2 separate regions of the Homo sapiens genome follow, and region 1 is linked to region 2. Evidence: fine-mapped expression QTL. Tissue or cell type: esophagus mucosa. Region 2 holds a variant in brackets; the other region holds the start of a gene. All regions are shown on one strand. Distances are between the middles of the regions.

Region 1 (5,373 bases), 50 kb before region 2:
GGATCTAGAACTAGAAATACCATTTGACCCAGCCATCCCATTACTGGGTATATACCCAAAGGATTATAAATCATGCTGCTATAAAGACACATGCACACGTATGTTTATTGCGGCACTATTCACAATAGCAAAGACTTGGAACCAACCCAAATGTCCAACAATGATAGACTGGATTAAGAAAATGTGGCACATGTACACCACGGAATACTATGCAGCCATAAAAAATGATGAGTTCATGTCCTTTGTAGGGACATGGATGAAGCTGGAAAATATCATTCTCAGCAAACTATCACAAGGACAAAAAACCAAACACCACATGTTCTCACTCATAGGTGGGAATTGAACAATGAGAACACATGGACACAGGAAGGGGAACATCACACCCCGGGGCCTGTTGTGGGGTGAGGGGAGCGGGGAGGGATAGCATTTGGAGATATACCTAATGTTAAATGATGAGTTACTGGGTGCAGCACACCAACATGGAACATGTATACATACGTAACTAACCTGCACGTTGCGCACATGTACCCTAGAACTTAAAGTATAATAAAAAAAAAAAGATAAAAAAATAAAATGAGTGGGCCAGCCGGGAGCGGTGGCTCATGCCTGTAATCCCAGCACTTTGGGAGGCCCGGGGCAGGCAGATCACCTGAGGTCAGGAGTTCGAGACCAGCCTGACCAACATGGAGAAACCCCGTGTCTACTAAAAATACAAAATTAGCTGGGCATGGTGGCGCACACCTGTAATCCCAGCTACTCGGGATGCTGAGACAGAAGAATCGCTTGAACCCGGGAGGTGGAGGTTGCGGTGAGCCGAGATCGCGCCACTGCACTCCAGCCTGGGCAACAAGAGTGAAACTGTGTCTCAAAAAAAAAAAAAAAAAAAAGAGCAGGCCTCCTTTTCCTTTAACAAAATAAGCCTCAGATCTGTCAGAGAAGAGAATAATGTAAACAGCTTCTAGGGGACAGAACCATGTGGGGACATCAGAATACAGTCTGCCCTGACAAGCTGCTATTACATATTTATCCCTTTAATGCCTATGGGCCTCAAATTATAATACTATTAGTAATAGTTAACACTTACTAAACTCTTACTGTATACCAGAGGCAATTCCAGACACCATGCAAGTTTTACCTCCCCAAAGCTCCATGAGTTCTACACCTTCCTCAAATTGACAATGCTAGAAAGTGCCTAGATTTGAAGTCTAGCTGTGGAGCGCCACACGCTTAGCCAGCTGGGCCAGTAATGATGTCAGCAATGGCCAATCCCTGTGGGGTCTGACAATTCTCAAAGTGTATCCACACATAGGGTTGAGGGGATGTAGATGAAACAAAATTGGCCATGAGTTAACAAATGTGGAATCTGGTGACAGGTCCGTGGCAGTTCACTGAATAGCTCTACTAGGTAGGTTTAAAATTTGTCCCTACGAAAAAATTAAAAATAAAATTAAACGCCTGATATCCAGAACTCACCATATGCCGGAAGTGATTTGGATTGTTAACTAGAAGCCGTCAGAGTTCCCCACCAGACCTAACCCTTCACAGCCCCAAACCAGATGTTTGGCCCTAACATGTGAGGGAAAAGCAGTCCAGGAAAGGAGTCAGCCAGACGGGCCACCCAGATGACGACCAAACCCAGGAACTTTGCCACAAAGCACAGGGGGCACCTCCCACATGACACACCTTGAGACAACAGGTCCCAGAGAAAAGACCTGCCCCCATTCAAAAGAGCTGCCTAGATGCCTGTCAGAGTGATACAGCCCACCACTATCAGAGGACGAAACCTCCCTCACCTCCCTAAAAACCCCAGGGACTCCTGACCCAAGACACTCGCCCAGGCCCTCTCAGGATATTTTGACCACGTCAAGCTCACCTCCACTTCCAACCCCCCAACCCCTAATAAACCAAGGTCCATCAAGCATCAAGGCCTGAGACGGCCTCCCCCTAACCACCCCGGTCACCACTCGGGACATATCCAGCCCCACCCAAAAAACAGAAAAACTCGGTGATGCAGGACTCAAGACGCTCCCCAGCCAAAAACCACCCAGGGATGTGCGGACCTAGCCACGTCCCCACCCCAGCCGCGGGGATGTTGGTCCATTTGGCCCTGGCAGAACTCAACCCCACAGCCCAAATAAACCCCAGGACGCACGACTGGGGCCGCCCTCCGTATTCGAAAACTGGTTGACCCAGAATAATCCCGCCTGGTTCAAGACAGGCATTAGAGTTCTAGGTCACTCTCGTCCCCCCGGGGGGAAAAAAGGTCCGCGGAGGTCCGGGCAAGCAGGGGCTCACCCCATCGCCTCGCCCCAATGAGCACCGCGAGCTGCGCCCTCTCCTCCAAAAACCAAATATCTCCAACCCGCACTCCCCATTGGCCACACTCTACCCCGCGTCCTAACCTACGCTCGGCCTTTCCCGACCCTCCTTTCCCCACGAGAGAGGGCATCCTGGGGCCAAGGAGCCGCGGAGGCCGCGCTCACCAGAGCCAGCGTGCCCGGGATCTCGGCCACCGACCGACGCCAGAACTACAATTCCCAACATCCTCGCAGGCTTCGGCTCCCATTGGCCGCCACAGAGCCACTTCTGGGCCGTGCAACGGTTACTTTTCCAGGACAGTGACCACTGCAGTGACAGCCTCTCCGTCTCTTCTTAAAATACCCATGTTGAAAACAGGTTCTGGCTCCCGAGTGAAGTCTCTGTCCCCTTGGCCCATTCTGCAAAAAAAAGACTACACTCCCCACAAGCCTCTGCGGCAGCTTCCGCAGGCGCTTCCGGAAGCTGGGGTCAACGAGAGAAGTCATTTCCGATTGGCGAATCTAGCGGGAGCAATGCGCTGTCTGTCAGGCGTGTGTTGGGTACAGAGTTTACTGCACCGGACCACCTGAATTCCCTGGGCTGAGGCTCCATAGCACGCGAACTACCTTGCGTGAGCACTATGTAGATTCGACTTCGTGTTGCCTGTGACACACAGGCAGGGCAAAGCCGCCTCCCAGCGTCTCAGTTGAACCCTTACCCTCAACACCAGTGCACTCCTGTGGGTGGCCTGTAGTCACCTTTCTTGTCGAAGTCCTCAAAGTTAGGGACAGACTCTCATCCAGTTTCTGGAGGGTGGAAGCTTCACTCAGGCTGGAGTCTGGCTCTCTGGCCTCTTATCTAAGATCCCGGTTCAGATCTGGGCTACTAGAGCCGGGCGTGGTGGCGCGCGCCTGGGATTCCTGTAACCCCGAGGGAGGCTGAGGCTGAGGCTGGAGGATGGCTTGAGCCCAGGAGTTAAATGTATATATTTTAAAACTAATAATATTTTTAAAACTGGGCTACGCTGGTACCTTCTGCAACACGGCAATTAGGGGTTTGCAGATCAGACCTTCAGCTCATAGGAGGCGCGTTTAAATCTTAATGGCAAATACAAATTGAATTAAATTTTACTTGTTACTGAAGGGGAAATAAACCTGACCTCACGCCCTTGGAGTATTTCCATGAGAAATCTATGTATAAGTGCTCCTTTGATATGTACCTGATACTTTTGAAAGGCTGAATAAGCACCTGCCAACTTTACAAAAGAGGAATGTTTCCCCCAAAGGCCTGATGAGCCATCTCTTTGAAATGTAAACAGTGAAGAAGATAGTGCCCTTATCTCCCTGTCACCTTGGGAGTTTAGCTTAGGTGCCTAGCTCCAAACTCGTAACTGCCCGCTTGTCACAGATAAAAGTTTTATTTTTTCTTTTTGATAAAGGCAATTAACTAGTGTAGATGGCTACTCCAATTACCAGGTGAATTTAGAATGAATTATGAAAAATTGTATAGCAAACAATGTCAAATCCTCTTACAAGGGGGCAAATTACCATTAATTTTGAGGACATGTTTGTAATAGATTGTATCTGCCCAACTAGATAAAAAGTAAGATCTCTTTCTGTCTGGCATCTGATTAGCAGATTGTCTACAATGTGCTTCCCAGTCCAGTTCAATATTATTTGGTAATAAAACTGTTCTCCTTCTTTTCTACGTTTGTGAAGGGGATTTTCTGGGTTAGCAGGAGATTTTGTTTTTATTTTCTCCAACACCTCCTTCCATCTTCTTATTTCTTTTCACCTTCCCAATATCAGCCTTCTGAGGCTTCTCTGTTCTCCAGTACTCAGGAGATAGAGAACATGGCCCCAAGGCCGTTGTGAGCCAGGAGACAGACAAACATTTCTTGATATTCTGTCCTGCCTTTCACAGAAAGGACCAATTCCCTTCTCTTGTCTTGGAGGCTGCCGTGTTAGTACTGGGCAGAATCTGTTACTGAAACACCAGGGGTTGGGTCTAGGTCCTGCTGGTTGCCAGTCAGAAAACCAATCACTGAGACGAGTATTGCAAGGGAAGAAGGCCTTAATTGAGTGCTGCAGCCAAGAAGATGGGAGATCAGTCTCACATCCATCTCCCTGACTGACCAAAATCAGGGGTTTGTATAGCAGGGAAGAAATGTAACTATGTGTGGGAAAACAGAAATTAGGGAGAGGTAAGTTGGAACAGGAAGGAGGTGATTGGTTAGGCAATATGACTGATGAGGAGTGTGGGTTCTCATTGTCCACATGCAATGATTTGGTAAGTTGCAGCTCCTTGATACTATCTGGGAGGCCTGATGTTTGGTTTTCCTGAGAAAGGAACTCAGGACAAATGTGACCTTCTCAAGTTTTAAGACTGGGGGAATCCATTTCTTTTCTTTCCTTTTCCTTTCTTTTTTTTTTTTTGGACAGGGACTTGCTCTGTCATTCAGGCTAGAGTGCGGTGGCATGATCACCGCTCATGTAGCCTCAACCTCCTGGGCTCAAGTGAGTCTTCCACCTCAGCCCCGAGTAGTTGGGACTACAGGCACATGCCACCACACCTGGCAATATTTTTTAATTTTTTGTAGAGATGGGGTTTCACCATGTTGCCCAGGCTGATCTTAAACTCCTAGGCTCAGGTGATTCTCCCACCTCAGCTTCCCAAAGTGCTGGAATTACAGGCATGAGCCACCGCACCTGGCCTGGAAGGACCAATTTCTGTTTATTCAAAGAAACCATAAACATCAATTCTGTGGGACAATTGGGACAGTTTCAAATCCAGCCCTTGATCTGGAGCCCTCCCTCAGCATCCCTCTGTGCTCCATGTGACTGTTATTCATCACGTGAATAAAATCTATGGAACAGTTGAATTAAAAATACAAGGACAGAGGTGACATCAATGGGAAATCTCTGTCCCTTCTGTTTAATTTTGCTATGGACATAAAATTCATCTAAAAATGAAGTCTATTCATAAAAGAGAAAATTAGGAAAATTTTGCAATGTTTTACTTGCCCCTCGCCCTGCTTTCCTCCCTGGCTCTTCAGCAGTCTCAAAGCCTACATTC
Region 2 (5,373 bases):
CAATGTCTCCCTCCCATCTCTTTGACATTGCTGTAATTCATTTAGCTTATCCATAAGCTATGATTATCCAACATATTGTTGCTATTGTTATCCTAAACAAACCCTTATCTTTTAGGTCAGTTAGGAATTTAAAAAGAAGGATTTTATTTTTTATTTTTTATTTTTATTTTTTTTGAGACGGAGCCTTGCTCTGTCACCCAGGCTGGAGTGCAGTGGTGCGATCTCGTCTCACTGCAACCTCCACCTCCTAGCGTCAAGTGATTCTCCTGCCTCAGCCTTCCCAGTAGCTGGGATTACAGGCACGTGCCATCATGCCTGGCTAATTTTTAATAGAGACGGGGTTTCACCATGTTGGCCAGGCTGGTCTCGAACTCCTGACTTCATGATCCACCCACCTCAGCCTCCCAAAGTGCTGGGATTACAGGCGTGAGCCACCAGGTTTGGCCTATTTTTTCTTTATTTATTGCTTCTTGAATGCTCTTCCTTTATGTAAATCCAAGTTTCTGACCTATGTCGTTTTCCTTCCCTCTGAAGAACCTCCTTTAACATTTTGAGGGGCTGGACAGGGTGGCTCATGCCTATAATCCCAGCACTTTGGTAGCCTAAGGCAGGAGAATCTCTTGAGGCCAGGAGTTTGAGATCAGCCTGGGCAAGATAGTGATACTCCATCTTTAAAAAAAAATTGTTTTTTAATTAGCTGGGAGGCTGAGGCAGGAGGATCACTTGAGCCCAGCAGTGCAAGGTTATAGTGAGCTATGATGGCACCACTGCACTCCAGCCTAGGCAACAGAGTCCCTGTTTCTAAATGAAAATAAAATAAAACTTTTTTTGCAAGGCAGGTCTACTGACAACAAATTATCTCCGTTTTTGTTTGTCTGAGAAAGTCTATCTTCCTCACTTTTGAAGAATACTTTTGATGGATACAGAATTCTGTCCTTTTTTTTTTTTCCGTCAGCACTTTAAATATATCACTCTACTCTCTTAACTTGCACAGTTTCTGGAGCAAAATCTAGTGTAATTCTTATCTTTATACCAACAGGTAAGGTGAGTTTTTTCCTCCAGCTTTTTTCAAGATTTTATCTTTGTCTTTGGTTTTCTGCAGTGTGAATACGATATGCCTAGGTGGAGATTTTTGGCATTTATCCTGCTTGATGTTCTCTGGGCTTTCTCGATGTGTGGTTTGGTGTTTGTCATTAATATTAGAAAATTCTTAGCAATTATTAATTCAAATATTTCTTCTGTTCCTTTCTCTGTTTGCCTTCTGGCATTCCCATTACACATATGTTACTCCTTTTGAAATTGTCCCACAGTTTGGGGATATTTTGTTCCATCTCTGAAATTTCTTTTCTTTTTGCTTTCAGTTTGGGAAGTTTCTATTGACATATCCTCCGCCCACTGACTCTTTCCTTGACTGTGACCAGTCTACTAATGAGCCCATCAAAGGTGTTCTTTACTTCTATTATAGTGTTTTTGGTTTTTACCATTTCTTTTTTATTGTTTCTTAGAGTTTCAATCTCTTTGATTACATTACTCATCTGTTCTTGCATGTTGTCCATTTTATCCATTAGATCTGTTAACATATTAATCAGTTATTTTTATTTTATTTTGTTTTCTTCAGATGGAGTCTCGCTCTTGTCGCTTAGGCTGGAGTGCACTGGTGTGATCTCAGCTCACTGCAACCTCCACCTCCCGGGTTCAAGCGATTCTCTTGCCTTAGCCTTCCAAGTAGCTGGAATTACAGACATGCACCACCACGCCCAGCTAATTTTTGTATTTTTAGTACAGATGGGGTTTCACCACCTTGGCCAGTCTGGTCTCCAACTCCTGACCTCACAGTGAAAATTTGGTAGGGCTCCTGGAGGTAAAACTGATGAAAGTGCGCCCCCACCAAGGCAGTCATTCTCACCCAGACCAGAAGCTTTCAGAATAGGTGGCCTTTGGACCTAGAGGGAGAAGAGATTTCTTTCCTTAGCCATTGCAAGGTTTGTGGATGAGACCCCAATAACAAAAGACAGATTAACAAGATAAACGCATCCAATTTTATTTAATGTAAGTTTTAGGGAACACAAGAGCCTTCAGAAACGAAGACCCAAATATACAGGGAAAACTGTATTTTTATGGAGAGTTGTGCAGAAGTATGATCGGAGGACAAAAGGGTATGATGTCATGGTAATCAACCAGGGGGAAGTAGCAAGGCCTGTTTGTTCCGATTCCTCTTGGCCTCTCTGTGTGACTTTCCTTTCCTTGGGTATAGGGCAGGACACCTGTCACAGGAGGTCTTCAAGGGAGA[C/T]GGGAGGGAGAAGGCCAGAGAGTGACCTTCCTGCTTCTGCAGTTTTCTTAGTTTCCTTCAGCTTAAAATACTCAACATGCCAAGGTGCCATACTTTGGGGTGTCCTGTTCTGAGCCCCGCAGAGCTCACAAGCTCTCGGAATCATCTTGGACGTCTGATTTCTCACGGCCGGGGACATTTTCCTGGGCCTGAGGCCGTTGGAACCAGAACTGTCCATTTTCCCGCCCCGGCAGGTGACAGGCTGGGAAGGAGATCCTCAAGCAAGCGGGCTCTCAAAGCCGAGGGGACCCCAGGCAGGCGCGGAGCTCAGCGAAGCCAGAAGGAGCGCGCCGGGGGCAGCCCAAGCCCGGGGTCTCCCCGGAGGAAGCAAACAGGGCGCAGGAGACACAGAGAAGAGCTGGGGGAGCAGGAGCGGGGCGAGGCAGAGAGGACCTGCGAGGGCAGGAGAAAGCGCGACGAGAGGGCCTCCTTCCAGGAGCGGACAGCAGCCCCAAAGAGGGAAAAGGAGATTCCGAGGAGGGAGGAGAAGTCGAAGCGGCAGAAGAAACCCAGGTGTGTTGTGGCTCCGATTCTGGGCATTCGCTCCGCGCGCTCCCGCTCCTTCGCGGCCCTTCCCCTTCCCCCGTGAGGGACTGATGCCCCCCTCCCCGGGGAGAGGCAGCCCGTGCCCTCGCTCTGGCTTCCGTGCCTCCCAGCCCTTACCACTGCCCCACTCTGCGGTGGGTTCTTCATCCCAGAACCGGGATGAAGATCGCGGGTCCGCGCGGGGGAGTGGCCGCGGGCTCTCCACTCCAGCGCCTCGTGGCACCCGGTGAGGCGGGGCGCGGGTGGAGAGGTGGCGGGGCGCGGGTGGAGAGGTGACAGGGCAGCGGGTGGGACACGATCCCGCGTCCCCTGAACTCCAGCTGGTGACTCACCCCGGCTCTCGAAGAGGAGGAGCTGAGCGACATGAACAAAATCGGACTCAGGAACCATCTGAGGGCTTAAGCACACCTCGTTCCGGCTTCCGGATCTGGGCCAGTTTCCTCTGCTGGAAATGTGGCACTGGTCCAGGAGACCTTCAAGGATGCTACCAGCTCTGAAATTCTGGAGCTTGGAGGTTTTATTTGTTTTGCCTCCTTTGTTCCATTACCATTGGCACCAACTAGCACGTGTGGGTTAGTGGACAGGGCCAGCTTATGGCATCAGAAAGTGAAGATTTGGGGTTCATGTTTTTGTTATCAATTTTAATAGGTGTCTCTCTCTTTGCCTCCCTTTTTCAGTCATTGAGGATAACAGATGCCTTATTCGTTGCTCATATTGTTTTAAGAATTCTTTGTGATAGAATAGGAATTCTTTTGCAACAGTTGGGAATATTAGGATTATGGTGAAGAGTTGATGTTCTTTCCCGGTGGTTTGTAGCAAATCCTTTTTGCCCACAGCCTCAGTTGGGTGCTCCATCTTCCTCTCCACCTTTACAGAGAGGCTTTTAAACAAGGGCACTGATTTTTTTCCTGTCGCCATGCCAACCATCCTGGCTTGGTTACAGCCTTTGTCTACTGTCTGGTTGCTCCCAGACATGAACTAAAGAGGTAAAGGGTGCATCGTGCCCTTGGCCATTTAAAAATAACGTGAATGCACCGTTGATGGGCCCTGGGTGCCCTGAACTTTAGAGGGAGCCTGTACCATCCCAATGGGCCACAGACTCATTTATGTCATTTTCAGCTGAGGGCCATGCCAAGGCATTAGAGAGATGAAAACATTCAGTTCCCGTTGCCTAGATACTGACAGTGTGGCAGAGGAGATAACACATAGGCATTGGTAATCCTAAGACAAGGCAGAAAGCAATATGCATGCAAGACAGGACTTGATGGAGCGCTGAATTCCCCGGGTGCTGGGCCATCAGGGTTCCTCCATGGAGAAGGTGAACATCCCAGTGAGGCTTTGAATAACAGGTGGAATCTAAATAAGCAATGACTGAATGTCCAACACCCCAAACTGTGGGAACACCCTACGCAGAGACTCAAAGGCAGATATCATCAATTGGGTGTGCATGAAGTATGGCAAAAAAAAAAAAAATATCTCTGTGTTCTAGGCTTTTCAACCTTCAAGGGCATCCTAAAACTTCTTCTTTGCTCCCCAGGAGTTAATCAGAAGCTAAAACACCCAGAGGCTGCTGCAAACCTGTCTCTAAAACCTGCAGTAACCCAAGCCCACACCCTAATACTACCATTTATGAAACACACTCAGGCTGCCCAGCCATAACCCTTCCTTAGTCCTTTCCTTTACCTACCCGATTGGGCGCTGTCTCACTCAGCTGAGAGTCACTATTTTTCATCACTAAAGGAGTCAGAGGCCGGGCGTGGTGGCTCACGCCTGTAATCCCAGCACTTTGGGAGGCCGAGGTGGGTGGATCGCGAGGTCAGGAGATCGAGATCATCCTGGCTAACATGGTGAAACCCCATTTCTACTAAAAATACAAAAAATTAGCCAGGCGTGGTGGCGGGTGCCTGTAGTGCCAGCTACTCCGGAGGCTAAGGTGGGAGAATGGCGTGAACCCAGGAGGTGGAGCTTGCAGTGAGCCGAGATTGCGCCACTGCACTCCAGCCTGGGCCACAGAGCAAGACTCCATCTCAAAAAAAAAAAAAAAAATGGAGTCAGAATAGGCTGGAGGCTGTAGGGAGCACACACAGACACTTGGATTTTGTGACAACTGAGCACATAGTATTATCTGGGAGATGGGGAGCTCCCCAGCTGGAAATTCTCCACAGCCCTGCTGTCCAATATGACAGCCACTAGCTGCATGTGGCTGCTGAGCACTTGAAATGTGGCCAGTGTGACTGAGCAACTGAATTCCTCATTTAATTGTAACTCAGTGTTAATGCCACTGAGTTGACATAAGAGTTGGTGAATTTACTTAATTTGGACAGATGTAGTTTTGAAACTGATTTGATTTGACTTTGAAGCCAAAACAGTTCTTCTACAAAAAGACAAACTACTGTTGTCAATGCAGATACAAATATCAAAGGAAAACCATATTCTGCTACTTGATTCAGTTCTTGGGAATCTTTTAAGTATGTCTAAAACAATTTGGGCAAATCTAC

Evidence for each region. PIP is the estimated chance that this variant, and not a neighbour inherited with it, causes the effect.
Region 1: it holds the start of ZNF343, and the variant in region 2 is the best candidate, but not a certain one, in a credible set for the expression of ZNF343 in esophagus mucosa (GTEx, PIP 0.68).

What each region holds. Positions count from the first base shown.
Region 1 is chr20:2,506,398-2,511,770 of GRCh38, forward strand. ZNF343 (zinc finger protein 343) reads right to left here and starts at 2,518. Exons shown (of 6, transcript NM_024325.6): 1 at 2,484-2,518. RefSeq lists enhancers at 1,783-1,842, 2,493-2,802, 3,344-3,939.
Region 2 is chr20:2,555,933-2,561,305 of GRCh38, forward strand. It overlaps TMC2 (transmembrane channel like 2), which reads left to right. Exons shown (of 20, transcript NM_080751.3): 3 at 2,524-2,842. Among named protein-coding and RNA genes, the nearest start is that of TMC2, 22 kb to the left of the region's middle. RefSeq lists an enhancer at 2,107-2,817. The variant C/T (reference allele first, on the strand shown) is at 2,291.